7 linked regions of the Homo sapiens genome follow. The protein of the gene in region 2 interacts with the protein of the main gene of each other region in a pairwise test. Each region holds a gene or a part of one and is shown on either strand. Other genes may lie near its edges.

Region 1 (4,604 bases), on a different chromosome or scaffold from region 2:
CTGTCTCAGCCTCCCAAGTAGCTGGGACTACAGGCGCCCGCCACCACGCCCGGCTAATTTTTTGTATTTTTTAGTAGAGACGGGGGTTCACCGTATTAGCCAGGATGGTCTCGAACTCCTGACCTCGTGATCCACCCACCTCGGCCTCCCAAAGTGCTTGGATTACAGGCGTGAGCCACCACGCCTAGCTGAGTAACTTTTTTTTTCCTTTCCTTTCCTTTCCTTTCCTTTCCTTTCCTTTCTTTCTTTCTTTTTTTTTTCAGAGACAAGGTCTCACTACATTGCCCAGGCTGGTCTTGAACTCCTGGGCTCAAGTAATCCTCACAGCTTGGCCTCCCAAAGTGCTGGGATTACAGGCGTGAGCTACCGCACCTGGCCTGAATTGAGTAATTTTGAATTATATGCAGAGAAAGTCATTCCTTTTTCAATTCGCTTTCAACTTTGTTGATTACATCAGGGAGCGTCTCAGTTGGTGTTACCAGTCTTTTAACACCTCTCTAAATCTTGTCATCTATTTAACCCAGGAGAAAGTAAGCAGGCAACAATGTTTGGTTTCTAGCACAGCTTTTTTCCCCCCTTTTTTCACTTTCATTTTAGCTCGCACACGGGTCTTGAGTTTGGTTTTTAGCAGTCCTGCCTAAAATTAACTAAATTTCTGGTTTGAATTGCTGTTCGGGGGAAAAAAAATTAACTAAATGCACCATCCAAAAGCAAGTTTTTGGATTTACAAGATTAAGAACCAGACATTAAAGGGAAGAGGCTCTACCAACAAGGCGCTGCCTGAGCAGCCAACCAAGCAACCTGAGCCTCAGTTCTTTCTGTACAACAAGGAGTTTTGAAAGGTACTCACTTTTGGCAGATTTCAGGGGTGTCTGAATAGCTTCTGCTGTTAGTTTGTTTATTTCGGTGATATCCAGGTCAGCCTATGACAAACATAGCCAGAAAGCACCAGGCTTATTCCACCAAAATATGAGGAACAATATTTCAAGATAAAAACTTTTTTAAAACTATTATTTAATACATAAGACTGTTAAATGTTAGTGATACAATATACAATATAGCAAACTCCCATAAACCCACCACACAGCCCAAGACCTAAAACATTGCCAATAACTTGCTTCTGGCTCTGTATTCATTCCTTGTTCCATTTTCTTATCTCTTCTTCCAAAGGTGATGAGTCTCCTAATCCTTCATTCCCCAGGGGTAACCATATCATTGCACTTGCTTTATCGAAAGGTACATGTGTATGTGCTCACAGATACATGCATATGTGTGTATACATGTGTGCACACACAGATGTGCTTTTTCACAAGTGTGTACTTAAGCATTTTGTTTGGTTTTGGCTGTTTTCACCACTCTTTGTGGTTGTAGTTAATTTGTTTTCATTGCTATATCATATCCCACTGTGTGAATATACCACAATGGATTTGTCCATCTTCCATCAATAGTTTCCTGCTATTATAAACACTGCTACCTTGAACTGTCTTACATGTGTCTGAGGTACATGTCCAAGTTTCCCCTTGGCTCTATCCTTTGGATAGGACATGACAGGGATTATAGGTTACATAAATATTCAGCCTTCGCATTATGCCAAATTGTTTCCCAAAGTGGTTACCCTTGACTACAGCCCATCTGCAAACAATACAAGTTCCTAATGATCTACATCCTCTACAACACTTGGTGGTGTGTCAAGCTTACCATTTTTTCGATAAATCTACAGGGTCTCAATAAGGTTTTCTATGATGATCCTGGGTCCTTCAAAAAGGCTTCCAGTCACCATTCAAATTCGTTTTTTTTTCATATGGTAATAAGTATGGGCACTACAAAGAGCAGTCATGATTCACAGTCCTTTCCTTATAGAACACATGTAAACATCAGAATAATTACTACAGGTTTGGAATGGCACAGGTTTCATTTCTGGTAGGGACTGCTTGACATACTCAGAGAAGGATTCTGAGGCTGTCTTAGGCTTAGCAAGAAATAGGGCTGTAATAAGTTACTGATGTTTGCCAGGCTTGATGCAACAGAAAGTAGGGGCATTCCTGCCAACCTTCTGCCATCTCTAGAAACAACTGGCATTTTATGGAGTCATCAGTGGTGGCAGGCCACTGGGCATCTACTGTGCAGGACAGTTAACAGAGCAGGCCTGAGACTGATACACATAGAAAGGCCTGTTTGCAAGCCTGGCCTCGGTTGGCATCTGGGAACTTGATTTCAGAAAGATTCCCACCTTTCCTTAACAAGATGCCTCACTGTGCCTAAACTTTATGCAAACAATATGGCTCATGCTGAACACCTACTTCCCTCCTGAAAGTCTAGGATTTTGACATGTGCTAGGCAGAGGATGCCTATGTGAGCAGCCCCCAGTTAAAACTCTGGGCATTGACTCTCTAATCAGATTTTCTGGTAGACAGCATTTCATATGTGTTGAATTAAGCATGTTCTGTTTGACTCTACAGGGAGTGGACTCCTAGAAGCCTGGTTTCCTCTGGACTTTGTCCTATGCAATTTTCTCCTTTGTTGATTAATGCTTTGTATACTTTCACTGTAATAAATCATCGCCATGGGTGTGACTGTATGCTGAGCCCCATGAATCCTCCTAGTGAATCACCAAACCTGGAGGTGGTCTTGGGAGCCCCAACACACTTCCCAACTAAGAGCTTTTATAGATTTTCTATCGTTCCTTTCTGGAGTTTTAAATCATATTAGTCAAGGCTAGAATTCTCTCAACTTGGTGTGGTAACAATGGCTCTCTCATATTACATTAGAAGTTCTCATTTGCAGTTCTGTATTTCTAATTTAAAAAGAGAGAACTGCATTAGCTAGTAAGCATAATTCATCTCAGAGGTAACTCTTTTAAAACATTGGAGCTCAGTGTATGTAGGGGGGTGAATAATCCCCACCTCTCTCCCAAATGCTCCAATTTTTTCCAAATTGATAATTGGCTCCTCATTACCTTTACCTTCTGAATGAAGCTGGCGGAGATCTGCTATGTGCCCTTGGTGGTCAGACTCCTTCAAACCCTGATATTCCAAATGATTCTGATCAACTCAACAAAAGATGTAATTTTGGGGTTTACTTTGTAAATCTGATCAAGGCTACAATAAACTAACAGAAAGATACACAAATGCGTGCATACACACGCATTGTTTGTATATTATTTTAGAGTGCCTAGGGACTCTGTGAAGCCCATGTATGGACTAGTTCCCAATGCTGTCTCATAAAACTTTCTGCAAGAGTAGCAATGTTCTATTTCTGTGCTCTCTGATGGAGTAGCTACTAGTCATATGTAGGTATTGAACATGTAAAATGTGGCTAGTATGTCTGAGGAAATGAATTCTTTAATTTTATTAATTGTAATTAACTGAAATAGCTACATATGCCCAGTGGCTACTACACTGGACAGTGCAGCTTTAAATGCTCTATTTTGCATCCCCATCTTACTGCCTTCAATCCTGGCACTGATGCTGGGAGGAAGGAGATGAGAGGGGTTGGGGAATACTGAGCATCCCAAGCAAAAGCACTGCTTCTACAGTACGACATGATGAAACACCTTTATCATCTAGCAGGCCAATGCATAGTGTAATGACTCAGGCGCTTAAAGGAACTTGGGCTTGAGGCTTTCTACTTCCGCTGTAGAGTTCAGAACAAAGGACTGCAAGAAATTGGTCAAAAACAGAACTGCCACCTTCTGTAGGGCTCAGAACTATCTGGGTCTCATGTATACAGTGTCTGGTCCAACTCTAATTTTTCAGTTGACACAAACAGATGATGTCCCTTTATGAAACCTCTTCCACAGTAAGCATCTATTAGTTGGATCTGGGGACTGGACTAGACTTAAGTAACCACTGGCTGGAAAATAGGAAAGGTCACTTACTGTTGCCGCCTCTTCCAGGGCCTGTTTGTTTCCTCCAAGGGCTTTAAAAAGAACGTTGTAGTTACTATTACATTTTAACAATAAATCATCTTGCCTAATAGTACCATTTATCTTTCTAAAACTGGTCCAGCCCTTGGTCTAACCTTCAAGGACCTTCACCATCTAATCTATTCTTTCTCCAAGTTATATCCCAAATGTGCCACTGACTCTCATGACTTGTTGCCATGGTACTTTGTATTTCCTCTGCCTGAAATTCACCTCCGTACTTAACAAATTTCTAACTCATCCTTCAAAACTCAGCTCAAACATCACCCCAAAAATTCTGCTTATTTTTCTTTTTAAAAAATATATTTTAAATTTTATTTATTTTTGAGACAGAGTCTTGCTCTGTCACCCAAGCTGGAGTGGAGTGGCGCCTCCTTGGCTGTCTCCTGGGCTCAACTGATCCTCCCACCTTGGCCTCCCAAGTAGCTGGGACTACAGGCATGCGCCACCACATTCGGCTAATTTTTGTGTTTTTTTGTAGAGATAGGGTTTCGCCAAGTTGTCCAGGTTGTCTTTTTTTTTTTTTTTTTTTTTTTTAAGTAGAGATGTGGTCTCCTGCTATGTTGCCCAGGCTGGTTTTGAACTCCTGGGGTCAAGTGATACTCCTGCCTTGGCCTCCCAAAGTGCTAGGATTATAGGCATGAATCCCCACCCTATGCCCTGCCCTCTGCTTATTTTTCTT
Region 2 (4,253 bases):
AACCACTCTATTGTATTCCCTTCAATAAAAGCAATATTTTTTTCAAGGGAAGAATTCTTAATCATTGACATTCTATAGAAATGCTGGTGTATGGAAGTGGTAATAAAAATACCAACTTTTACTTGTATCATTATATTCAAATTCTCTGTAGACTATGCTTTCATTTATTGCCTGCAGTAGACAATGGCCACTAGTTTCTTAACAAGGAAATGCCCTAGTATTGGGACCATGGCCTCCAAACACCATTATTTTGGTGTGTGTGACATGCTGTCTTACTCTATGTAGGGTGAGGTTTTTTGTCCATTTGAGGGGCTTCAGTTGCTTACAGTATTGGTTGAGTTGCAACCCAAATCACTATGAGGTATGTGGCCTGGAGGTGGTGATTTTGATGTCTTCATTTTGGAAAGAGTGTCACTGTCACCTACATACAATACAGATCTTTGTATTTTATTTTATTTATTTATTTTTGAAGACAGAGTCTCGCTCTATCCCCCAGACTGGAGTGCAGTGGCCAGATCTCAGCTCACTACAACTTCCGCCTCCTGTGTTCAAGTGATTCTCCTGCCTCAGCCTCGCATGTAGCTGGGATTACAGGCACCTGCCACCACTCCCAGCTAATTTTTGTATTTTTTTTTTTTAGTAGAGACTGGGGTTTGCCATGTTGGACAGGCTGGTCTCGAACTCCTGACCTCAGGAGATCGTCTGCTTCGGCCTCCCAAAGTGCTGGGATTATAGGCATGAGCCACCGTGCCCGGCCAATACAGATCTTTTTAAATGCCCTTCTACATATTCACATGCTCCAAACACCAAGTCCTTTTCTTCCTCTCCTGTTAGATAAAATTTTAAGAAGAAAATTTGTCTCTAGGAATAAGTCCTCCCCCAGGCCTTATTTACAATGTCTGGGAAACTGTCAACCTGTGGGTCTGTCCGCCAACCCTACAGGATCTCATATCCTTCCCTTCTCAAATGCCTACCTCTTCCCTTCCCTTCCTTCCCACCATCAGACAACAGGCAGAGATATACACGGTCATCAGCTCCTCAAACTTGATTTTATTGTAATCATCGCCATTGGTAGTGAGGATTTGTCCAATTTGGTTTCTCCATGTTTGACTAGTCCTCCCCACCCTCCTGTGAAGATCCTTCAGATGAGTCTAGGTCTTCGTCCTCCTGTGAAGATCCTTCAGGTGGGTCCAGGTCTTCGTCCTCCTGTGAAGATCCTTCAGATGAGTCCAGGTCTTCGTCCTCCTGTGAAGATCCTTCAGATGAGTCCAGGTCTTCGTCCTCCTGTGAAGATCCTTCAGATGAGTCCAGGTCTTCGTCCTCCTGTGAAGATCCTTCAGATGAGTCCAGGTCTTCGTCCTCCTGTGAAGATCCTTCAGCTGAGTCTAGGCCTTCGTCCTCCTCCTCTTGGACTGGATTGATGGAGTTCTCTCGGGACTGGTCCTTCTCCAGTTGATTTGAATTTATTTTCGTATGCTTCCTGTAGTAATACACTATTATTGTTAGATATTCTATTGTTTTTGTCTTTTGCAAGCTCTGTTTGGGGGCTAAGACCCTGTTCGGTGCCTCCTGCATCTGATAAGAAAACAGGGAGAGGCCAGAAAGTCATTATTTTGGGTGAATAGGGTAGAGACTGGATAGCAAGGGGGGCTTTATGAGAAGGAATGCAGGTTGAGGAAGGGGTTTGTGCCAGAGAAGAACAAGGTGGAATCATAGGGTAGTGATCTATGGGGAAGAAGAAGAGGAGCATGGGTAGGGTCATCTGTTAGTCCAAACTGCACGATTTCGCAAGTTCTTTGCTATTTTGCAGACCTTGGTCAAAGTGAGACACTCCATGGGGGCTCAGGCCGTGAGAAACATCCTGCCTAACCACCTGACCACAGGGCGGACAAAGGCCCAACTAAAGAAACATTCCTATCATATCTTGCTTGGCAAAGTTCTAAGGAACGCCACAATGATATTCCACTGGAAAAAGGGCCAAACCACCTGATCATAAGAACATCTTATCAATATCCTGCCGGATAGCATCCCACATTGCCCAGATCCCTCCTGCCCATCCCTGTAAGTACCCCAGCCTGTAAGCGGCGGTGGGCTCTGGCATTAAGCTTGTCCTCCACTTCCATAGGTGTCTGCCATATTCCTGTGTTGCTGTTTGAGCTGCCCCCTGTGTGTCTTTCTTTCATCCTTGCCTTCCCTTCAAAACCTAACATTTTGGTGCCAAAACCTGGAGTGGTGATTGGGTTCTAATGGGTAAGTTTTCTCTTGCAACCTGGAAAGCAGCAAGCAGCACAAACTAGACCAGGGCCTGCTTCCAGATCCTGAGTGTACTCCCTGTTCCCAGTCCCATTCTCCTTATTCTCTAGTCTTCTCCAGACCTGGGCTAACCTCCAGATAGTGATCAAACAAGCCACCTTATTTTTTGTTCCTTCCTGTTTCCGGGCAGCTGCAACAAGGATCACCCCCATTTCTGGACATCACATCCAACACTGGGCTTCAATTAGTGGGTGAGTCTCCCTCTTCCTCCTTTCCAGATTCCTCTCTATTTCTGCCCGTTCTCCAAAAAATTCCAGTGCTGGGTGAGAGGTCTCCCCAGTCACCAGGTGACTGCAGCCTCCCTTCTTAGGGTACACCTTCAAAACGTTTGCCACTCTGGCTGCTCTGGCCTCTGGGGAGCATGAATAGTACGGGGCTGCCCCAACTCTCCAGGTCCCTTCTCCCAGGAGGAATCAAGTACTCACTTCCCTATGGGGTATTCACTTCTCTCTGGAGTACTCGCTCACCCCTGGGGTACTCACTCCCTTCCAGGGTACTCACTTTCCTCAGGGGTAGTCACTCCCATCCAGAGTATTCACTCCCCTCTTCCAAAAAACAAAACATTCAACTTCCAAATTCAACATAATCTAAAAAACTTTCTTCAATGCAATGGTAAATAATCTGAAGTGCTTTGCTTATCTCCTTTCATGCCTCACTCTCTCTCTCTCTCTCTCTCTCTCTCTCTCTCTCTGCCAATCTTGTTCACCTTTTCAAATCTTCCTCCTCAAGGAGAAACCCCCCAAAATGCCTCTTCCTCCGGACAAGTCTTCTTCCTCTGAATTTCAACCTGGCCAACACACCCGTTCTTCAGCCTCCTGCCCTCTCCCATTCCCTCCACCTTCTCCTTCGGATCCGGCTCCTCCACCCCCTTACTGTCGCCCTCCATCCCCCTTCCTTCTCCACCTCAAACCAGGTCTCACACCCAACCCCCTTTCGCTAGGAACCAGGCACATGCCCAAAGGCCTTCCAAAGTCCTTCCCTTGCAGGAGGTTGCGAGGGCTAAAGGCATAATCTGAATTCAAGTTCCCTTCTCTCTAGCTGAGTTTTCCCATATTGAAAGGAGACTTGACTCCTTTTCAATGGATCCAACCTCCTTCCACAAGGAATTCTTGTACTTCCCTAAATCTTATGACCTTACCTGGCATGACATATATGTCATCCTCTCCTCTACCCTCACCCTGGAGGACAGGGAACACATCTTTATGGGTGCCCAGGTCCATGAGAACACCCTCCACCAACAAGATGCTGCTCATAATCCAATAGGGACCCTAGCTGTCCCCAGAACTGGCCCCAGTTGGAATTATCAGGCAACTTCAGTAGACAGACAGAAATCAGGCCATATGATATCATGCCTTCTAGCTGGCATAAATAAAGCTGTCCCTGCTCGTTTCCTCTCCTGCCTTTCAAAAGTCACAACTAAATATGCCACCTTAAGCCCTAATACCAATAAGGGCAAAAACTACCTCCATTTATACTTTATCTCCCAGTCAGACCCAGACATTTGAAAAAAACTTAAAAAACTGGAGGGTGGCCCTCAAACCTTCCAAAGAGACTTAATCAAAGTGGCCTTCAAGATCTATAAGATTAGAGAGGAAGAACTAAAAAATCCAAACCTAAAGAAGGACCAGGCTAAATACCAAATGCTGGTAGCTGCCACTCAACAGGGTTCCCAAGGCCTACAGAATTCCTCAACTTGGCAACAGTCAACTCCAGGAGCCTGTTACAAGTTCGTCTAACAGGGACACTGGGCAAAAGCCTAGCCTAATCCCAGGACACTCTGGAAATCTTGCCCCATCTGTGGTATCAAGCAACACTGGAAGTCAGACTGTGCTCACTGAAACTCTTCATCCTGCTTCACCACCTGTACCTGAAGACAGGTGGGGCCTGGAGTCCACCGCCCCTACTGCCATCACCACCTCGGAACCCAGGGTAATTCTGTC
Region 3 (4,604 bases), on a different chromosome or scaffold from region 2:
CCCTCACTGAGGGTCCTGCAGCTCCACCCACTCTACAGCACAGCGGGCACCACACAAGCTGCGGGCGCACTGCGGGGCACGCACTGCGGGGCACACTCTGGAAGATGCACACTGCGGGGCACACTGCAGGGCACACGCCCGCCGGTAGCCTGCCTGCAGCTTTACCACTCTAGGAACCACACAGACAAGCACGAACAACATAGGTTAAATTGATCAATTTTAACCCAAGATAGCCACATTTTATTCAGTCTGCAGATAATCATATTTAAAACTTAAAACATTTAAGTTTCCAATTTGCCTGAAGTCAGACCCCACTGGCTGAGTGGATTCCTCGCTGGGACCCACAGGCCAGCCGCTTGGCACATGCCATCTCATTCCCCACCAGCACCCCAACGAGGGGGCCGCAGGAAATCTGGGGGGCTGCCCATGTGTGAGGCAAGAGGACAGCGTGAGGTGAGGCCAGCCCTGGATAATGCAGTTCTGCCTGAGCCCACCCTCCCAGGCCCCAGCCCCACTTTCCCAGGCCCCAGCCCCACTCTCAATGATCCCACTCGTCTACAGGCGGGCAGGGTTGGGGCACCCATCCCTCCTTCAAAGCTAACCCCTGTCCGGGTAACTCTCCATGCCAACAGCTGCCATCCTCCCTCCTAACGCCCCCCTCCTCTTCCAGAGCAAGCGGTAGCACAGAGGGGCAAAGGCTGAGGGCACAGCCATGAGCCCAGGGAACCCACCTGGAGAACGGGGCCGCCACTGTCCCTGTCGTCACCTGCCTGCTCCTCACCAGCCTCAGGTTCAGCCCTGCAGATGGAGCCTGGAACAAAAGGGACCCCGTGAACCCTACCTGTGCCCAACGTGTGCTGGCCCCAAACATCCAGGAATGGAGAGCCCGCTCCGTGCACCCTGGTCGGAGCACGGGCACAGGCGGGAAACACCCGGGAACGGACAGCCCACCCTGCACCCTGGTCAGAACATGGGCACAGGCGGGAAAGCCCACAGCTCAAGGCAGATACTAGGTGCCATGTGACCTCTAATCTCGTATGGACAGGATGAGAGGTGCCACCTCAGGCCTGCAAAGGAAAAAAAGATGTCCCAGGGCACAGGTGCCTACACAGCCCTGAGTGGCTGACTACAAGCTGGCATCTTGGGCAACAAAGGCCATGTCAAAAGTTCTGGAAGTGAGGAGCCTCAGGGTGGCCTGGTCCAGAAGCTGTGGGAGCTGATGTTTCGGCTGGGTGCTCGAGCTAGGCTGGGCATTTGGGGCTTTGATGGCACTGTCTGCAGAAGAAAGGTTTTTGGGCAACAGGCAGCTGTGGGGCAGCATGTGACAAGGGTCTGCTCTGTAGCTGGCAGCAGGGGGCCAGCAGCAGGCACTAGCGGACCTGCCAGGCACCTCAGCTACTGAGAGAGAAGGGCAAGGCAGAGACCAGGGAGAAGCATACAGGGTGGCCGGGCCAAGTGCTGGGGGCGGTGGGGAGGGGGTCTTCTGATTAGGAAGCCAAGGGGAACAGTGGCCACAGCACTGATTTGGGGCATACTGGGGTCCTGAGCGTGGTCAAAGACATGCCCTCCACAGCACCAGGATGCCACACTTAGAGCTCAGACCACCCAGCAGGCTCGGACAATGAGTGCAGCATCAAAACAAAAAATGGGCCAGGCTGGACCCCACGGCTGCCCACAGAGGCCTCTGGCAGGCAGTGAGGGGCAGGTGAGTACACCTGCCCCTCACACACACTGCACACAGAGCAGTCAGGTGCCCTGAGGTCTCAGGCCTGAACCCAGTCATGGTCAATATGGACAGAGCTTGCTGTCCTCTGGGGAGACGGGCCAGGAACGAGGAACACGAGGAGCAAGTGATTCACATCCCGTGCCACAGAGTGACGCTATGGGGAGGACTGCGTTGGGGGCTGGGAGAGGCCAGGAGGCTGAAAGAGTCCAGCCCCAGAGAGTGATGGGGGGAGAGACGGTGGGAGGGACGGAGAGACTCGGCACCAAGGCAGGAACGAGTCTAGGGGGCCAACTGAGCCAGAGGCATGCGTTAGACCGAGGAGCCCAGGGGTCCGGAGAGGGCGTGGAGCACATCAGAGGCTGGGGGATGAGGGGAAACGACGTGTGCTTGGTGCCCACAGAAGTCACTCTGGCTTCTATGCTGAGGATGGACTGTGGAGAGGGGCAGAGACAAGGGGACCAGGTAGGAGGTGGCAGGAGCAACCCAGCAGGAGATCGCACTGGCTCAGCCCAGGACAGGCCCCGAGGAGAAGCCAGGCGCAGTGTGACCCCCACCTGCGGGCGGCTTCTCAGACCTCTTCTGGGACAGCGCGTCTCCACGCTCACCACCCTCAGAGGACTCATCACTGTCCGACGCCACCTCCTCATCCTGTGTGTCCAGTTCATTCAGGAGGTCTTCAATGGCAAGCGGGGCCTGCTCCACAATCGTCTCAAAGATGCCTCGAGTGATGTTGTTCAAAACCAAGGAACTGAGGGGCAGAGCAGAGGCCGGTGAGCAGGCCCGTTATGCTGGATTCCCAAGCGGAAGCCGCCGACTCCCCTGCAACCTCTCCCCACCCACACGGCCAGCGGCCACTCTGAGACAGATTCATCCCTCGAGGGAGCAGCACCCCCACAACAGCAGCCCCATGGAAGAACTCAGTGAAGGAGTCGGGCCCGATCAGGCCACCCACCACTTACTCCTTGGTCCGGGCAGCAATTCTGCAGAAGGGGTCGATGAACTTCAGGTTCTGGTCTGCCGTAAGCTACGGGGAAAGCCAGCGGGAGCTCAGTTCCTCCTCCACAAACGCCCAGCTCCACCGCCCCGTCGGAGCCCAGCCTCACCTCCTCGGCGCCCACTTTGGTCAGCTCCTCCAGGAAGATCTCGATGAAGTGGCTCTTCACACCGTTGGGGGCCTGGCTGCTGGGGTGCAGGATCTCAGTCATCAGCAGCTCTAGCAGCTCCTCGATCTGTCTGAGGAAAGAAAAAGCAAACATGACAGGCAGCCTCGATGAGCCCCAAGACAGCCGTGCCCCCCACTCTCCCATGGTTACACGCTCTGATGGGAACCTAAGTGCGGGCAGGCGCCACTGTCTGCAAACATGCCAGCCTTAAAGTCCACGCAGATGATATCAACGATCCTAGGTCTCCTCCAGCGCAAGGCAGTCTTGCAGTTAGGGAGTTATGTGACCAGCACCACCACCAGAACGTATGGCCTGAGTGTGCATGTCAGCTACAAAATGCAGCACGTGTAAACATTCAGACAGGCCTTCCCTCTGTCCTCAAGATTGCTAGCAGAGAGAAAGGCTTGGCTGAGACGAGACGCCCTGCCTGGTGTTCCTCTCCACTGCCTCCACTGGGTACCGCTGGGGAAGACACGTCAGGACAGCACAGGCAGAGAAAGGAAGGTGGAGGCCCAGAAAGGGGCCGAGGACCATGAGCCACCTGCTGGCTTCCTGGGCCCTGCCGCACGACGCATTCCAACTGTGACGTCCACCAGAGCTCTCCCTGGCAGGCGGGTTTGATGGCATCACAGGCCCTGGATCTGAAGACTAGACAGCCCCAGAGAATAATGTGTAGCACCTACATGCATCTGGACCTCCTGGGGTGCTTAATAACGCAGCTGCCTAACTCAGATCTGTAAACTGTGTGATCCTTAGGAAGCTCCGTAGCAAGGCTGGAGAATCACTCGTGATGGAAAGGAAAAGTGATGCTCTCTAAGGCTCAGGAAAAACGAGACAGAGGCAAGAACAGGTGCTGAGACCAAGAGGAAGACACACAGATGCAAGGGACCGACTTCCCAGGCCAGTGGCAATGGCGTGGATATTAATGACAGCCTGGTTATGCCTGCAGGAGATCCAAGAGGGCGGGAAGAGCGGACCCCACTGTCAGCACTGGGACCGCAGCAGGCATTGGGGGAAGGCACCGAGGTCTTCCACATGATTCCTGTGCTGAATTCTCAGTTACAGGGAGAAAAGTACTCTTGTAATAATATGCCAAAAAAAGTTAACACAAGTAAAATCATCCCTTTAACATTTAATTCAGCTTAAGCCATGAGACCCCTATGGGGTAATCCACAATGCTAAGGCCCAGAATGAATGAGACTCCTGGCATCAGAGTCCTGCCAGGGAATAGAAGAATGAAAATCCCTCCAAACCAGAGGCACCGCTGCCCTAAATGCAAAATCACCCATGCAACTCAAACCTAGAGAAACTCAGCAGCCACAGTTCAATTCCTGCTGATTCTTTAAAAAAAAAAAACAAAAAACCAGAATCTCACTCTATCACCTAGGCTAGAGTGCAGTGGCTCAGTCACAGATCACTGCAGCCTCAAACTCCTGGGCTCAAGAGATCCCCTTAACCCACCATAACCAGCCTGCTAATTCTTTTCTATGCATTTATCTAATTTTTGTACTTTTAGTAGAGACACGGTTTCACCATGGTGGCCAGGATGGTCTCGATCTCTTGACCTTGTGATCTGCCCGCCTCGGCCTCCCAAAGTGCTGGGATTACAGATGTGAGCCACCGCGCCCAGCCAATTTACATATTTTTAGAATTAGGAGCAATTAACATTGCTTACAACTTGGGAGGCCTAGGCAGGCAGATTGTTTGAGCCCAAG
Region 4 (4,604 bases), on a different chromosome or scaffold from region 2:
GAAGATGGAAGTGGAAGTACTTAGAATAAAGGAAGAAGACAGCAGGAAGTCAAAACAAAACACTACCACAGAAGCTACAGGAAGGGAGAGCTTCTAGAAGCAGGATGCTCAAAAAATTTTCTCTAAGAGATCAAGAAGTTGAGGACTGTGGAAAGGCCAGTGCATTGAGTGGCTGCTAATCTTGAAAAGGAAGGAAAACAATCAGTATAGTGAGAAGCAGATTTTTAGGTGCAAAAAGAATACATAAGTGATAAAAATAATAGAGGCAGTTAATATTAGTTTTATATATTTTGGATTAATTTGACAAATACTGGAAATGAAGGAAAAATGTAATAGCCTGATGGGTAGCAAAGCTGAGAGAAAGGTACTTTGGGGATGAGACTGGAACAGGCTAAGGTAGAGTATACAAAGAGAAGAAAAAAATCGGAAAACTTAAGGAAAAAATGTGACTGAAGGAACAAGGTCCCAGAAGAGCCAGGGGCCTGGAAGTTCATCTGAGGTGAAAAAGAAGGGCAGGGGAAATGATGGTGAAAGAAACAGACATTTGGAGGCAGAGTGCAGAGGAACTGAGGAATTTACACCCTTCATCTCAGTGATGTAAAATAGAAGGTCATCTCTGAAAAGACACAAAAGTTAAGCTGTGTGCCTAGGGCAGGTGGGGCTATTTCCAGTTTTTTGAGGAATTAACAGAACAAGGCTAGAATGCACCCCGGCACTGAGGAGAAGCACCTGGTTCATGGCCCTGGTTTGTCGGGACAGTATGACTGACTGTGCAGGCTGCAAGCTGAGGCAGGCAAGGGGATAGAGCCTTGTGGGGGACATCCCCCAGGGCCTCTATGGAAGTGACCCAAGGTCCACACAGAATAAGCAGAAAAGTACATCAAGACAAATACTAAAGGGAAGGGCTTCAGGGCCGGTTTCCTCCTGGAAATAAAATGCTGCCTGAGGAACAATGAAACAAACAAAAAAAAGGGCCAGGCACAGTGGCTCATGCCTGTAATCCCAGCACTTTGGGAGGTAGACACGGGCAGATGGCTTGAGGTCAGGAGTTCGAGACCAGCCTGGCCAATATGATGAAACCCCATCTCTACTAAAAATACAAAAATTAGCCAGGCTTGGTGGTGCACACCTGTAATCCCAGCTACTTGGGAGGCTGTGGCAGGGGAATCACGTGAACCCAGGAGGTGGAGGCTGCTGTGAGCCGAGATTGCGCCACCATACTTCAGCCTGGGTGACAGAGTGAGAATCCATCTCGAAAAGAGAGGGGAGGGGAGGGGAGGGAAGGGAAGGGGAGGGGACAGAAGGGAAGGGAAGGGAAGAGAAGACAGAAGAGATGAAAAGAGAAGGCAAAAAACAGGTTCCACGCCAGGAGCTCATGTTTTGAGAGGGAACATTAAAAACCTAAAACTGTGGGAAATGAACAAGAACAGAGGTTTTATAGAGAAGCAGAGGCAGGAAACACCTACTTGATGAGGGGAACAGAGAGAGAGAGAGAGAGAAAGAGAGAGGGAGAGAGGGATGGAGGGAGGGAGAGAGAGGGAGGGAGGGAGAGAGAGGGAGGGAGGGAGGGAGGGAGACAGGGAGAGGCGGAGACAGAGAGGGAGGGAGAGAGGGAGAGAAGGAGGGAGGGAGAAAGGGAGGGAGAGAGGGAGACAGGGAGGGAGAGAGGGAGAGAGGCAGGGAGAGAGGCAGGGAGAGAGGGAGGGAGAGAGGGAGGGAGAGAGGGAGGGAGGAAGACAGTTCTCATGCTTACCCTGAAACCACTTGAAAGTTAAGAATTTTCATTTTTTTCCTTATCCTCAAAATCTCAAATCTTTATTGACCAAACTGAATCAAAGAAAATCCTGAAGTAATACTTTAAGTGGCATGACTAAAATTTCCACCTGTGTGAACCATTTCCAATTTCATAAAGTTACAAGTAAGACTTTATTTTCATCAGCTCACCCTGCTTTAGTACAGCCGAATCCCCTCGTCTTTTCCTCCGTGCTCTCTGCGAACCCCTCAGGATTCTTACATCTTGTTTGTTCTCCTACAAAAAGAAAGGAAAATTATGACTTTAAAGTTCAAGAAATTGGCACCAGTGAATAGTTAGAGAGCTATCAGAAAGCACTTTTTCTGTTGTTCTTTTCTTCAGTTTTACTTTGTAACTTTTAAGGAAAGTAAGAATATAGTTCATCTGAAAACTGTTGCTTTTGGCCTGAGGTTATTACAAAATAAGACTGTATCCACGTGTTACCGGTTGGAAGGGCATGGACACCGCTCCCCGCTCCTTGAAACACTTTCTGCTCTCAGCTGCGTGACCGCTCTGCTCTGATTTTCCTCACGCCTTACTGGCTCCTCTTTGTCTCCTCTGCTGATGTCTCCTCCAATCCAGTTCCCTTCTCTACTCTTTCTAGTCCCTTTCCCTGGGTTTTCAAGGTCATCTTACATAGGCCAGATACTCCCAATCCACACCCTCAGCTTCCTCTTCCTTACTCCATGTGGCTGTAGACAAATGCCTACTTGGGATCTTCACCTGGATGGTTAATCAGCATTTCAAACCCATCATGGCCAAAGGACTCTGTGTTCTGCACTCCACCCTCATCTTCCCATTCTCAGTAAGAGACAGGATTATCCAGCCAATTGTTAAAGCCAAAGTTTTATCCCTGATTTTTCTCTTTTCCTCACACACTCTGACAACCCTACCTCTAACATTGATTCCCAAATCCACGGACTTCCATCATCTTCAGCCTTCTTACGTTGTCTACTGCAATAAACTCCTAACTGGTTTCCCTGATTCCACTCAGGGCTACAGTGGTCATTTAAAACATACATCATATCAAAGCATTCCCTTGTCTTAACTTTCCAGAGGCTTCCCCTGACACTCAGAATACAATGAACACCCTCGACTCTTGTTTACCATAAAACCCTACATGCCCTGGACCACAGGTACCTCTTCAACTTCATCTTACTCCACCCTCTCCTAAACCAGTGACCAGACTTCCTTTTATTTCCTCGAACAAAACATGCTGTGCAAGTTCTTACCTTAAGGACTTTCCTCTGGAAGTTCTACTACCCAGAAGACGCCTCACTCTCAACTTCACATAGCTGACTCCTCTTCATTCATCAGATCACACTGTTCATGCCATCGTCTTTGAGAGGGCTCCCTGACAACCCAACCTAAAGTAGTCAGCCAATCCTAATGCCCTATTTTAATTCTCAACGTAGCACTTATCACTAGGTGACATTTCTCCTGTTCATTTTGTTTGTAGATTAACTACCCCCTAAACAAGAATGCAGTGTCTCTGCCAGGAGAGACTCTATGTCATCTATTTGTCTTATGCATCCCTGTATTCTCAGCTCCTAGAACAGTGACTCCCAAGTAACAGTTGTACAATACCGATCTCAACGGAAACACTTCCAGATCTCAAAGTTCCCTTTTCCTATAAAACCATTAATAGATGCCTTTAGGAATATGATATTTATGTTTTAATTCACACATTTTGAATGGCTTTTCCCCAAATATACCTGATATTTGTGTGCCATTTTTTAACCACTCAGATAGTTTTTTTTGTTTTTTTTTTTTGAGACACAGTCTCGCTCTGTCGCCCAGGCTGGAGTGCAGTGGTGCAATCTCAGCTCATTGCAAGCTCCACCTCCCAGGTTCACGCCATTCTCCTGCCTCAGCCTCCCGAGTAGCTGGGACTACAGGAGCCTGCCACCACGCCTACCTAATTTTTTGTATTTTTAGTAAGGAAGGGGTTTCACCGGGTTAGCCAGGATGGTCTCGATCTCCCGACCTCGTGATCTGCCGGCCTCGGCCTCCCAAAGTGCTGGGATTACAGGCATGAGCCACCACGCCCAGCCCACTCAGATAGTTTTATGAGATCTGTCTGCAATTTAAAGAAATGAGATTGGCATTGTGTTGTCAAGAGGAATTTAAGATTCATCTACAAGACTGAAGGTTTTTAAATGTTCCCTTTCACCCTAGCACTAAATTTCAGGACATCCCACTTTTTCACCCTGAGAGAAGGATACTATTGTTTATGATTCCCATTTTGAGATCAGGACAGCAAGGCACACAGAGGCCATGTAACTTACTGACACTAACACAGATAGTCCTGGAACCCACATTTGAACTCAGTGGGCTCCAGAGCAGTGCTTGTGACTGTGATGCTACCCACTAAAGATGCATCCCTGTGCTCCTGGTGTCAGGCAGAGGCACTCACCATTTCATCATCTCTCTCTTCTCCATCCTCCTTGGTGTCAGCTTTCAGAGATAATTTTGGTTTTTTCTTCCGACTACACTTAGGATCTTCTTCCTCATTGTCTTCTTCTACGTCCCTTTCTTCCTTCTGATCTCTGTTGTGTTTATAAACCCAAAATAGTGACAAGAGACAATACCTATCAAACATCTACTTGTTGATTATCAATGCAACAATCATTAAAAAAAAATCACCCTGCAAAGGAAAAATCTTTAACTACCAGGAGAAATCTGTAGGCATGAGAATATCATATATCAGGAACACTGAAAACAACTATTACATATGACATCTGTCTGTCAGGGCAGAAAATGAAAATTACCTTATATATTAATTTCAAAAGGGGGCCAGCAATATGTATGA
Region 5 (4,604 bases), about 43 Mb from region 2:
ATATCACTGATTCAACACCCCCTCTCTGACCACAACCTGCTGTGCTTCTAGCCTATTCAGCCAATGAGCCCCCCAACTAGCCCCATTCCTGTTCTCAGATTTCTTGGATGGGGGCAGTCTTCCATAGACCCTTCTGCTTTCACCTCCTCAGCTCCTTCCCATCTTTACTTCCTTCCCAATAACATTTAAATTTTATTGTTTCTTTCTCTTTTTTTTTTCTGAGACTTTTTCTCTATTGCTCTGGCTGGAGTGCAGTGGCATGATCTTGGCTCACTGCAACCACTGCCTCCTGGATTCAAGCGATTCTCCTGCCTCAGCCTCCCAAGTAGCTGGGATTACAGGTGTGCGCCACCATGCCCGGCTAATTTTTGTATTTTTAGTAGAGATGGGGTTTCACCATGTTGGCCAGACTGGTCTCGAGCTCCTAACCTCAGGTGATCCACCCGCCTCAGCCTCCCAAAGTGCTGGGATTACTGGTGTGAGCCACCGCACCCAGCCAATTCTATTGTTTCAACTGCACTCTTGTCAATATCCTCAATAATGCATAATTTCACTGCAAATATCTGATTTAAAAAACCATAGCTCTTCTAAGCCCAACTGTTATACTTTATGCATGCACAAGGACTCCTGAGATCTACTGGAGAAAAAAAAATCACACTCTGGTAGATTATTATCCATATGAATTCTTGGTCACCAAGCTCATCTTAACCCTGCCTGGCACTGCAACTATGCTTCCCTAGGCTGCTCTCCTGTTCTCCACAATAACTATTTCAAACCTTCTTCAAATACCACAAATATCTAACTCAAACCTTGTCCCATCTTAACCCCTGCTCTAAGAGGTTGGCCTTAACTATTATATCATAGAGAAATAGAAATACCATCAGACAAGTTCCTGCCGCCAAATCTATGAACCTACTTTCATCTATGCCTATTGAGGATAATCCTCTACCTCAATCTGGATCCCCTCCCATCTGGCATAAGGACTTTGCCTTCCAAGGATTTTGCTCTATTAATTAGTCCCTCCTTCCCACCAGCCTTTAAAGGAACTCAAGTCCTTCCTAAATAAATAAATAAATAAATAAATAACAGGTCCTCAATCTCAACTCCTTCCTTGCTACTACCCTTTCTCTGCTCTTCAAAGCCAGACAGATTTCTCTAAGGAATTGTACATAATCACTGCCTTCACTTCCTCATCTCTCCAATCATTTCTCAACCCACCATAGTTTAGCTTTCTGCCTCACAGTTCTCTGAAATTGCTCTAAGGTCACCAAGAACTTCCTAAATCCAATAGACAGTTCTTGGTCTTCCTAGATTTCTCTGGATCTTTAGTACCACTGACCATATTTTTAACATAGCCATTTCATTTTGAGAAACTTATTCTGCTGATATTCAAGTAAATTCACAAATATATATTCTGAGGATGCTCAATATTTGAAACAGCAAAAAAAAAAAAATTAAAGAACATAAACATCCATCAAAGGAAACTGACTAGTTATTGTACACACATATTAGGGAATATTGTGCCTTTGTTAAAAAGAAGAAGGTACGGTCTCCCTCTGATGCAGAGGTGAAGCTGGACTGTACTGCTGCCATCTCGGCTCACTGCAACCTCCCTGCCTGATTCTCCTGCCTCAGCCTGCCGAGTGCCTGCGATCGCAGGCGCGCGCCGCCACGCCTGACTGGTTTTCGTATTTTTTTGGTGGAGATGGGATTTCGCTGTGTTGGCCGGGCTGGTCTCCAGCTCCTAACCACGAGTGATCCGCCAGCCTTGGCTTCCCGAGGTGCTGGGATTGCAGACGGAGTGTCGTTCACTCAGTGCTCAATAGTGCCCAGGCTGGAGTGCAGTAGCGTGATCTCGGCTCACTACAACCTCCACCTCCCAGCCGCCTCCCTTGGCCTCCCAAAGTGCCGAGATTGCAGCCTCTGCCCGGCCGCCACCCCATCTGGGAAGTGAGGAGTGTCTCTGCCTGGCCGCCATCCCATCTAGGAAGTGAGGAGCGCCTCATCCCGGCCGCCATCCCATCTAGGCAGTGAGGAGCGTCTCTGCCCGGCCGCCCATCGTCTGAGATGTGGGGAGCGCCTCTGCCCTGCCGCCCCGTCTGGGATGTGAGGAGCGTCTCTGCCCGGCCGCCCCGTCTGAGAAGTGAGGAGCCCCTCCGCCCGGCAGCCGCACCGTCTGAGAAGTGAGGAGTCCCTCCGCCCGGCAGCCACCCCGTCTGGGAAGTGAGGAGCGTCTCCGCCTGGCAGCCACCCCGTCCGGGAGGGAGGTGGGGGTCAGCCCCCGCCAGGCCAGCCACCCTGTCCGGGAGGGAGGTGGGGGGTCAGCCCCCGCCAGGCCAGCCGCCCCGTCAGGGAGGGAGGTGGGGGGGTCAGCCCCCCGCCCGGCCAGCCGCCCCGTCCGGGAGGGAGGTGGGGGGGGTCAGCCCCCCGCCCAGCCAGCCGCCCCGTCCGGGAGGTGAGGGGCGCCTCTGCCCGGCCGCCCCTGCTGGGAAGTGAGGAGCCCCTCTGCCCGGCCAGCCGCCCCGTCCGGGAGGGAGGTGGGGGGGGTCAGCCCCCCACACGGCCAGCCGCCCCGTCCGGGAGGGAGGTGGGGGGGTCATCAGCTCCCCCGCCCGGCCAGCCGCCCCGTCCAGGAGGGAGGTGGGGGGGGTCAGCGCCCCGCCCGGCCAGCCGCCCCATCCGGGAGGTGAGGGGCGCCTCTGCCCGGCCGCCCCTACTGGGAAGTGAGGAGCCCCTCTGCCCGGCCACCACCCCGTCTGGGAGGTGTACCCAACAGCTCATTGAGAACGGGCCATGATGACAATGGCGGTTTTGTGGAATAGAAAGGGGGGAAAGGTGGGGAAAAGATTGAGAAATCGGATGGTTGCCATGTCTGTGTAGAAAGAGGTAGACATGGGAGACTTTTCATTTTGTGCTGTACTAAGAAAAATTCTTCTTCCTTGGGATCCTGTTGATCTGTGACCTTGCCCCCAACCCTGTGCTCTCTGAAACATGTGCTGTGTCCACTCAGGGTTGAATGGATTAAGGGTGGTGCAAGAGGTGCTTTGTTAAACAGATGCTTGAAGGCAGCATGCTCGTTAAGAGTCATCACCACTCCCTAATCTCAAGTACCCAGGGACACAAACACTGCGGAAGGCCGCAGGGTCCTCTGGCCTAGGAAAACCAGAGGCCTCTGTTCACTTGTTTATCTGCTGACCTTCCCTCCACTATTGTCCTGTGACCCTGCCAAATCCCCCTCTGCGAGAAACACCCAAGAATGATCAATAAAAAGAAAAAAGAAAAAAAAAAAAAGAAGAAGGTACTGTAGTTCTATATATACTGACACTGAAAGCATATTAAATTAAAAAAATTGCAAATCATATATATTATGATTCCATTTTTATTTGTTTACATTTTAGACAGATTGGATCATGGATGAATGGAAAAATGTCTAGAAAGAAATACAATCTTAACATTGTTACCTCTGGAGAGTGGGATAAGCAGGAACAGAAGATTTATATGTTACCTTTTATTGAGTCAAGTAATAAAAATGTAGTCCCATCCCTAAGCACAGCAACACTTCTAGGTAAGAAAAAAATTTCACAGGAGATCAAAAGGGAATGGCCGTAGAGACTAGGGGAAAATATTTTAAGGTCACCAGGGCTAAGAGAGAAAGGAGAGAAGTGTAGCTAATGGTTTCAAACATGGAATGAGAGATCTATTAAAAACAAGAAGAGGTAAGTATCCAATAGACAGAGAGCGTGAATAGATAATTCTTAAAGGGGAAAAATCACATGGCCAATACACATCAAAAAGAAAAAGTTTCACTCTTACTGGCAATAAAGATTTTTTTATGTTTGCTTATTAATTCAGCAAAATTTCAGAAAGACAATTTTCAGTTTTTAAAAAGGATTTAAGAGATATTCTCATATTTTGTTGGCAAATGTAAATTAGTAAGGCCTGTTAAAAAGCAATGTGACAATCTGATTTCTAAGAAAACTGAACTTCACAGAACTTATCACAATTGTAATTAAAAAATTATGTGATACAATATTTAATATACACTTCCCCTGCCGAAATAAGTTCCAGGAGAAAAATGGCCATTGTCTACCTTCTTCTCAGCCATACCTCAAGCATCTAGCTGGGTTGATGGATGGATAGATGGATAAATCTACATTGTAGGATCCTGACTGTAGGCTCTCAGTTGGTGCAACGTAAATCCTCAGTAAATCAACACAGAGCATGGCACAACATAGGCCCTCAGTAAATCAAATCACGCTTTCTGATGAGTTTAAAGACACTGATACTAATGGTATTCTGATGCCTGAATCGATAGAGCTACAAACAAGAAGCAGTGTAGATGCCATGGAAATTTTCTACTTCTTAAAAATTACTCAAGGTCAAGTTAGGTTTAGATAGTCACAGATATGAATATGAAAGCCACAGTGGTCCATCATTTCAACTATTCTTCTGCCAGGGCCATCCAATCTCCAGCCCTCTCCCTATTTCTGTCACGGCCACCCGGAAAAAATTCCCCATACTAGATTGTCCACACTCTGTTCCTGGTCTGATGAGTGCTGCCAGACAGAATGGATACAGGGTTCTGCGACTTGAGGCAGAGACAA
Region 6 (3,420 bases), on a different chromosome or scaffold from region 2:
CAGGCACTCTGGAGGTAGAGCAGGCCAACTCTGGCATGAACTTGGCGGTCCTGGCATTCGCAACCTGTCCTGACATCCCCTCCGTGAGCCAGGTGGTGAGTCACCCCACAATGCAATCTTAAACTGAGGCTTTCTGCCCTCCCCTAGGATCTCCTCCCTCACAGCATCACTACATGCACACAGCCGCAAAAAGGTCAAGAGGAAACATCCCCGACGGGCCCAGGACTCCAAAAAGCCCCCAAGGGCCCCTCGTACCAGCAAGGCCCAGCGCCGCCGTCTCACAGGCAAAGCACGGCACAGCGGGGAGTGAGACCGAGAACGAAGCGGTGCCCCAGTCTAGGCTGCGGGGACCTGTCCTTGCTCAGCTTGGCTGTCCCTGTAGCCCAGCCTGCACCTAGGTAATGACTGCACAGCTCAAGGTTGGGAAGCCAGGACCTCTCTGGCCTGGGGCCAGCTGCCTTTGCCTGGGGTCAGCTGCCTTTGCCTGGGGTTTGAATTCCCGAAGGAGCAGGCAGCTGAGAGCAGGCCTCCCCCAGGAAGAGCCTTCAGAGCCACGTGGGGGCATCTTCCCAAATGTGCACCCCACCTGGCACTCATCAGATTTGTGCGCTTGTGATTTGTTTGTCCTTGATACCACGCACAAGGGCAGGTTTTTGGGGTGGTGGAAATGGCCAGGGCCCATGGGTCTGTCTCCAGCAGTTAGCCCTGTGGCTGCAATAAAGTACAGTTCTCCCTGTGTTAAGATCCTAACCAGGGTTAAGGATCAGTGTGTCCGTTGCTAGAATCCAGAGCCCACCTGCTGCTCTGAAAAGCAGGCTCCTGAGGCCAGTGGGGGAGCAGTGCCCCCCATGCCCTTCACCGAGGAGCCTCTGTGCCTGTCCCTTGTCCTCGGCCCCAGGAGTCTCCTCAACTGACACTGAAGTGGTGGAAGCAGTTGAGTGCCAGGTCATCCCCCATCACCACACTGGGGCAGCGTCCCCAGGCTTCCAGCAGCTCCCAGGTGGGTCCCAACGTGGAAGGATTAATTAATTCTTTCTAAAGCAGTTGCAGCCGGGCTTGGTGGCTCACGCCTGTAATCCCAGCACTTTGGGAGGCCCAGGCGGGCAGATCACTTAAGGTCGGGAGCTCGAGACCAGCCTGGCCAACATGGTGAAACCCTGTCTCTACTAAAAATGCAAAAATTAGCCAGGTGTGGTGGCACACGCGTGTAATCCCAGCTACTTGGGAGGCTGAGGTGGAAGAATCACTTGAACCCTGGAGGCGGAGGCTGCAGTGAGCCGAGATCACGCCATTGCACTCCAGCCTGGGCAACGTTGTGACCTTGTCTCAAAAAAAAACTAAAAAATAAAGCAGTTGCATCTTGACTCGTACAAAAGTAGCCCCCACCAGAGTAGACCCTGCGGGTGCCAGCTAGAACTCCACAAGGGGCCATGTCTTCACACTCCTTCCAGATGGATGAGTTGATGGAAACCCTGTCCCTTCCTTGTCCCAGCTTGTCAGTCCTGGGCAGGAGAGAATTTCAGGTTGTGCCTTGGTTAGAGGAGCTGTGTTGGGTCCTAAACACTAGGACCACAAAGGGGAGTGAACTGTGTTCCCAGGGCTTGCTGACGCCCGTGGACTATGGAGTCAGGATGACAGGACAGTGCGGTGAGGGGCATCTGCGACAGGACTGCGGGCTCTACCCGCCCTGATGTGGGAGCTCCTGGAGTGGGGGTGAGCAGTGAGCCAGGGTCTGCAGGGCTGTCCTCTCTCCACAGCCAACAGCCAGGCCTTACAGTGGGGCAGGCTTAGTGACTGTGCCTCAGTTATGCTGTACCTGGGAGTGGGCAGGCCCTCTCCCATGTCACCATCAAAACCCACTGATGAAGGCTGGTGGGAGTCTGAGGGCTGCACCCGGGTATGGTGAGTTCCCCTCAGGGATTGTGCTGAGCGCCTTGGCCTGGCTTCTTGGCTCCGCCCACCTGCTCTCCCTGCCACCAAGTTGTCTTCCCCGGGTGGCATGTGCCACTTGGCTGCCTCGTGCCTGGGCACAGTGGTGCCTATTATGGGCCCTCCAGGTGGCTCTGGTGCTCAGCCTGCTGTGAGCAGGAACAGCTGAGTCCCAGGGGTTCTTGCACACAGCAGGGCTCGGGTTTGAATCCAGGCTCTGCTGCTTGGTCGCTGCATGAGCTTCTGCTGTGCTGACCTCTCTGGTTTGTCTCGTCATGTGTAAGGTGACACCAGATACCTACCTCTTAGGGCTGCCCCGAGACTAAAATAAGACCATGTGCATGAACCACTTACCAAAGTGCCTGTTGCTCTCCAGGTGTGCCTACCGCATGTTGCCGCTGCTGTTTCTGCTGGGACGTCTGACTCCAGTTCCTTCTCCCCTCTCCAGTGACAAGGTCATTTACAACTTACATTTACAATTTATAGTGTTTACCAGTATTAAATTCTCAGCCACTCCTTTCCATGTGTGCCTTCATTTCTTCCAGCAGACCAGGGAAGTTGAGTCACAGTGATTTGACCAATTCTAGGATCAGGGTGGTGGATTCAGAGCCCTCTGGAGAACTTGTCTTTTCTCCAGGAGCCCCTCACCATTGCTGTGGAGGCACCTGGGCTCCTTCCTCCTGTCGCTTTCCAGAGTTGGGCCTCTGAGAGATGTATGAGGAAGAGTTAAGTTTAGCTGCATATACTCTAAAACAAAATTGAAAAACAACTGGCTTGTGTAAAAGAGTTCCCATCCCAAAGATGGGAGGTTCCCAGCCTGGAGCTGGGAAGGCTGGAGGCTGGGATGCCGGGCTTCTAACTCTATGCTGTGTTCTATGTTGTGTGCCATTTTCAACACATGGCCCCTGCCTCACAGCACAAGGTGGCTGCTTGAGCTGCAGCCATTATGTCTGCATTTCAGCCAGCAGGACAGAAAAGGGGATGAAGAACATGCCCCTCCTTTTGAAAACATTTAGGGCCAGGTATGGTGGCTCACGCCTGTAATCCCAGCGCTTTGGGAGGCCAAGGCGGGTGGATCACCTGAGGTCGGGAGTTCGAGACCAGCCTGACCAACATGGAGAAACCCCTGTCTCTACTAAAAATACAAAATTAGCTGGGTGTGGTGGCGCATGCCTGTAATCCCAGCTACTCGAGAGGCTGAGCCAGGAGAATTGCTTGAACCTGGGAGGTGGAGGTTGCGGTGAGCCGAGATCATGCCATTGCCCTCCAGCCTTGGCAACAAGTGTGAAACTCCGTCTCAAAAAAAAAAAAAAAGAAAAATTGGCACTTGGCATGTCCTGTTGGCCAGGCAGGAGGCAAAGCATGAGGCAGAGGCAAGGGAGCTCTTAGCTACAAGACAGGCTAGGAACTCTTCTATTTATTTATTTTTTGAGATGTAGTATTGCTCATCATCCAGGCTGGAGTGCAATGGTACAATCTCGGCTCACTGCA
Region 7 (4,604 bases), on a different chromosome or scaffold from region 2:
CTTTGGGGACTGAAGAGATCAACTGAACTGCATTGCCAAGAATGGTTGGTGATAAATTGGTCATGGTTTTTGCAAGATCAACTTGTTCTTTAAATTTTTCACTGGCAACAGCAGAAGGTTTACTAGATGTTATCTTGCTTACAAAGTGTGCTTTCCCTGAAAGAGCTGTGAGGTCCTGCTTGGCAGGCTCCTCTGGTGTGGATGATGCTGGGGTAGCAGGAGGGTTCAGACTGCCATGGGTGTTGGTCACTGGTGGTCTCAAGTCCCCATGGTCACTTCCATTGGTCAGCGCAGCTGTGCTAATGCTGGCTGGGGCTTGCTCTAGTGATGGTACTTCCTCAAATGGACTGGGTTTGTACAGGAGTTCAGGGTGGTGAGGTGGGGAAGGGGACATCTGAGGACACATTTGGGTTTGGGCAGGAGCTTTGCTACAGCCACTCTTAGGAAAGATCAGGATGGGTTTCTTTCTTGATGCTTTGCTATTTCTAGGGGGTTGATATCTAGGAATAGGAAGTTTCAGGTTTTCAGGTAGGGACATTCTGGGTTTCTGAATTGGCTGAGCTGAGGCAACATGTGGCAGAGCAACAAGAGAAAATGTCCCCTCCTGGCCAGCAACCTGCATCAGGGCATAGTTCTGGGTGGACATCCCCAGCAGCTTGGAGTTGATGGAGGGTCCCAGATTCACCTGATCAGAGCGTGATGGTGAATGACATGGCAGCATTCTGGACGTTAGGACTTTGGGCACAATTTTTGGTGCAATGGTCCTAAACTGACTCTTATTCTGCAAACCTTTCCTACTCTGTATTGTTCCAGAAGGGATGTTTGATTCACCTGCAATGACAATAAAATATAAAGAGTTACTGTATGTAACTGTTCTGTTAGTGATACTTCAAACAACAAGCATCTTATTTACTCTGCCCAGAACAGATTCCTTGACCTACCTCCAAGCCTTCTGGGCAAAATCTTGTGTCCCTCAAGACCAGCTTGAAGATCAATTCCTGCCTACCTTCCCCAAGGATTTCTATACTTATCTATGGTTCCTTAGCTCCTATTATGTTATTTACCATTTTCCATAATAATTTATGTGTTTATGTGTATCTCTACTAGTCAACACTGCTTGACAGCGAAAATTCCGTCCTTCTCATCCATGTATTCTGCAAGTCCATCCTCTCCATTTAACCTATCCCCACTCATCTTCACATGATGTCTGGTATGTTCTGCTATGTAGTTTATTATTTTATATACATGTTCTGCTTTCCCTATTAAGCTTCAGCTTTGTGAGGGTACAGCCTATATTCATCTCATCTTGATATTTCCCACTGTATCCTTTGTATAAAACAAGCGCTTCTTGTATCAAACTCATTTTTCACTCAATCTCAGGATACACCATTTGACCCACTGGCAGTTGAATTTGTTTTGCACAGTGGATGCATTCCAGACTGAATGCTAGCTTTGTTGCTGTTTCCCCATGTGACTTACGAATTTCTTCTCACACCTTTCAAACTGTTTATGTGTGCTTTTGCAATTAAATCACCAGTATTAAAAAAGCTGATGTGACACCTTTAAAAAATGTTGAACAAAAAACAGAAAGATACAAAGTGATAAGTACAGATACAGAGACAACATGCAAAATATGTGAATGGCATAAAAAGCACCTTCTAGGATACTAATAGGAACAATTTTGACTGATAGGGTAACACTTCATTCTTTCTGGATTTATTAGCCTGACCTAAGATCAATTACTACTACCTTAAGAGAACAATTAAGGAAACATTTTGGTGTCCTGCTTCTAAAGACTGAATTATCTATTTTATTCTCTGAGGTCTCAAGGTCACAAGACCTGGCTGCAGAAATGTTTCTAATTTCTAAGTATCTCATATTAATCAAACTTCAATTCACATTTACTAGGCACCTACATTATTCCAATCATTATCCCAGGATTGGCTATTGCCAAGTCCACAATCCCTTTTCTGAAATTTTTGGAGGAAGATGTGGTTTGGAATTTATATTTTCAAATTTTGGAAAAGTAGTAAGATGCGTGTACTAAATGTTACATAACTCCCAGCGGAATCTGCAGGGCACCCATAATTGAACCTATTACCACTTCTGTAGCAAAACATGCAAATATTCGCAAGTTGGACAAATGAAGATTTTTAAATTGTCTTTATTTCAGTTCAAGTTTTTGCTTCTGAATGAGTTTGTAACAACTTTTCATAAACTTCTGTTTTCAGAGTTTTTTAGATTTTAGAGTTGGGGGTAGGGGACTGAACACTATCTGTTAGAGGATACAAGGTAGGTAGCAGACAATCTAGTGAAACAGACAATTGAAAATGTAAAATCAGCTGGGCACGGGGGCTCACGTCTATAATCCTAGCACTTTGGGAGGCTGAGATGGGCGGATCACTTGAGGTCAGGAGCTTGAAACCAACCTGGCCACGTGATGAAACTCTGTCTCTACTAAAAATACAAAAAAAAAATTAGCCAGGCATGGTGGCAGATGCCTGTAATCTCAGCTACTGGCGAGGCTGAGGCAGGAGAATCACTTGAACCCTGGAGGCAGAGGTTGTAGTGAGCCGAGATCGCACCACTATACTCCAGCCTGGGCAACAGTCTGAGCGAGACTCCGTCTCAAAAAAAAAAGAAAAGAAAATGTAACATCAACCTTGATTTTCTTTTTTCTTTTTTTTTTTTGAGACGGAGTTTTGCTCTTATTGCTTAGGTGAGTGCAATGGTGCGATCTCGGCTCACAGCAACCTCTGCCTCCTGGGTTCAAGTGATTCTCCTGCCTCAACCTCCCAAGTAACTGGGATTACAGGCATGTGCCACCACACCCAGCTAATTTTGTATTTTTAGTAGAGACAGGGTTTCTCCATGTTGGTCAGGCTGGTCTCGAACTCCCGACCTCAGGTGATCTGCCCGCCTCGGCCTCCCAAAGTGCTGGGATTACAGGCATGAGCCACCGCGCCCGGCCCGTCAACCTTGATTTTAATGCCTACAGTGAGTGAATTAACAATTTTAGCAGGAAGTTGATTCTTTCAGCAGAAATGACACCGCCTAAATAAACAAGCAACCTAGTAGAAATAAGGTGAAATTTATATTGACCAGTTTATTTTTAGAAAGTAATTGTTTTGCAAAGAAAAAGGACATTATGAAACATAAGTTCACAGGATAGCCTGCACGAGAGTAAGAAGTACAAGGACTAGTGAGTGCTATTGTCTGGAAAAATCAGACAAAGATAATTATGTTATTTGTTGTTTTCCTTCTGAGTTTGGTTACCGTGAATTCCGCTTATGGGTAAATTGAGTGGTAAATCACTTGACAATAGTCATCTGTATGGATTGCTACTTCTTCCTACATAATTTTAATTTTTAAGTTTTATTTTCATAGCCTTTAAATTTAAATGTTTTTCATTTTAAACCTCACCTTCTCATCTTTTTTTTTTTGGAAGAAGTACCAAAATAAGTCATAAATAAACACTTTAAATCAGGATTGAGAGACTTTGCAGAAAGCCTAAAATTATTGATGGCTTTTGGTTACTTAGAGATGTGGCTTAATAAATAATTACATTAACAGTAATAATGTTCTTTGCATTTACACAACAGATCTGGGGTGTGGAAGGAAGAGAAGAGAAAATATTGGGTCATTTATCACTAGTTCTTCCTCCTAACTGGGCAGAAAATATTTACCGCAAGATGAGCTAGAACAAAGGCTTAGTAATTCACCCTCTTGAAAGAATATGTGACAATAACACATCATAGCACAAGATCTATGACTTCCTCATCTCAAATCTGTCCAATGGCTCTTCATCTCAGAGTAAAGCCAAAATCCCTGCAATGGCTTAAAAGGCCTCATGCTTAAAAAGGTTCTCAGGAGCCTCTTTGACATATTTCCTCTACTTGCTCCACTCCAGCCATGGTGGCCTCTTTGCTGTTCTGGGCATGCACCTCCTGAGAGGAGGCTCCTGGCTGGGAGGAGCATTGGCTACTCCCGCCCACCCAAGACACTCTTCCCTCAGTAAATCCCCAGTACTTGCTGCATCGTTTCCTTCAAGGTTTTGCACAAATGGCTTCTTCTCAACGAGCATCTCCTCTGATGACCTTATTTAAAACTATATCCCATTGTGAACTCCCTGCTCCCTCTTCCTGTTTCATTTTCTCTAGAACATATGCTCCATTTATGGCCAGGCATGGTGGCATATGCCTGTAATCCCAGCACTTTGGGAGGCTAAGGCAGGCAGATCACTTGAGGTCAGGAGTTTGAGACCAGCCTGGTCAACATGGTGAAACCGTTTCTACTAAAAATACAAAAATTAGCCGAGTGTGGTGGCAAGTGCCTGTAATCCCAGCTACTTGGGAGGCTGAGGCAGGGGAACTGCTTAAACCTGGGAGGTGGAGGTTGCAGTGAGCTGAGATCATGCCACTGTACTCCAGCCTGGGCAACACAGTGAGACTACATCTCCAATGAATTAATGAATGAATAAATGAATAAAGTATCACATATAGGCCGGGCACGGTGGCTCACGCCTGTAATCCCAGCACTTTGGGAGGCCGAGACAGGTGGATGACAAGGTCAGCAGATCGAGACCATCCTGGCTAACATGGTGA

Evidence for each region.
Region 1: the proteins of SPANXN2 (region 2) and CDCA8 interact in binary tests that used the Homo sapiens proteins (3 or more experiments, as listed by UniProt).
Region 3: the proteins of SPANXN2 (region 2) and RRP1 interact in binary tests that used the Homo sapiens proteins (3 or more experiments, as listed by UniProt).
Region 4: the proteins of SPANXN2 (region 2) and L3MBTL3 interact in binary tests that used the Homo sapiens proteins (3 or more experiments, as listed by UniProt).
Region 5: the proteins of SPANXN2 (region 2) and SYTL4 interact in binary tests that used the Homo sapiens proteins (3 or more experiments, as listed by UniProt).
Region 6: the proteins of SPANXN2 (region 2) and NOL12 interact in binary tests that used the Homo sapiens proteins (3 or more experiments, as listed by UniProt).
Region 7: the proteins of SPANXN2 (region 2) and ZNF438 interact in binary tests that used the Homo sapiens proteins (3 or more experiments, as listed by UniProt).

The regions. Positions count from the first base shown.
Region 1 is NC_000001.11:37,695,224-37,699,827, reverse strand, and holds part of CDCA8 (borealin), read right to left. Parts: intron 3,919-4,604; coding exon 3,878-3,918; intron 924-3,877; coding exon 851-923; intron 1-850.
Region 2 is NC_000023.11:143,710,925-143,715,177, forward strand, and holds the end of SPANXN2 (sperm protein associated with the nucleus on the X chromosome N2), read right to left. Parts: intron 1,576-4,253; coding exon 1,111-1,575; 3' UTR 1,031-1,110; downstream 1-1,030.
Region 3 is NC_000021.9:43,795,777-43,800,380, reverse strand, and holds part of RRP1 (ribosomal RNA processing protein 1 homolog A), read right to left. Parts: intron 2,960-4,604; coding exon 2,830-2,959; intron 2,751-2,829; coding exon 2,686-2,750; intron 2,475-2,685; coding exon 2,281-2,474; intron 812-2,280; coding exon 732-811; intron 1-731. UniProt on the Homo sapiens protein: Plays a critical role in the generation of 28S rRNA.
Region 4 is NC_000006.12:130,052,596-130,057,199, reverse strand, and holds part of L3MBTL3 (lethal(3)malignant brain tumor-like protein 3), read right to left. Parts: intron 4,342-4,604; coding exon 4,209-4,341; intron 2,030-4,208; coding exon 1,945-2,029; intron 1-1,944. UniProt on the Homo sapiens protein: Is a negative regulator of Notch target genes expression, required for RBPJ-mediated transcriptional repression. It recruits KDM1A to Notch-responsive elements and promotes KDM1A-mediated H3K4me demethylation.
Region 5 is NC_000023.11:100,721,604-100,726,207, forward strand, and holds part of SYTL4 (synaptotagmin-like protein 4), read right to left. Parts: intron 1-4,604. UniProt on the Homo sapiens protein: Modulates exocytosis of dense-core granules and secretion of hormones in the pancreas and the pituitary. Interacts with vesicles containing negatively charged phospholipids in a Ca(2+)-independent manner.
Region 6 is NC_000022.11:37,691,027-37,694,446, forward strand, and holds the end of NOL12 (nucleolar protein 12), read left to right. Parts: intron 1-147; coding exon 148-310; 3' UTR 311-2,448; downstream 2,449-3,420. UniProt on the Homo sapiens protein: Multifunctional RNA binding protein that plays a role in RNA metabolism and DNA maintenance. Participates in the resolution of DNA stress and the maintenance of genome integrity by localizing to sites of DNA insults.
Region 7 is NC_000010.11:30,849,537-30,854,140, forward strand, and holds part of ZNF438 (zinc finger protein 438), read right to left. Parts: intron 832-4,604; coding exon 1-831. UniProt on the Homo sapiens protein: Isoform 1 acts as a transcriptional repressor.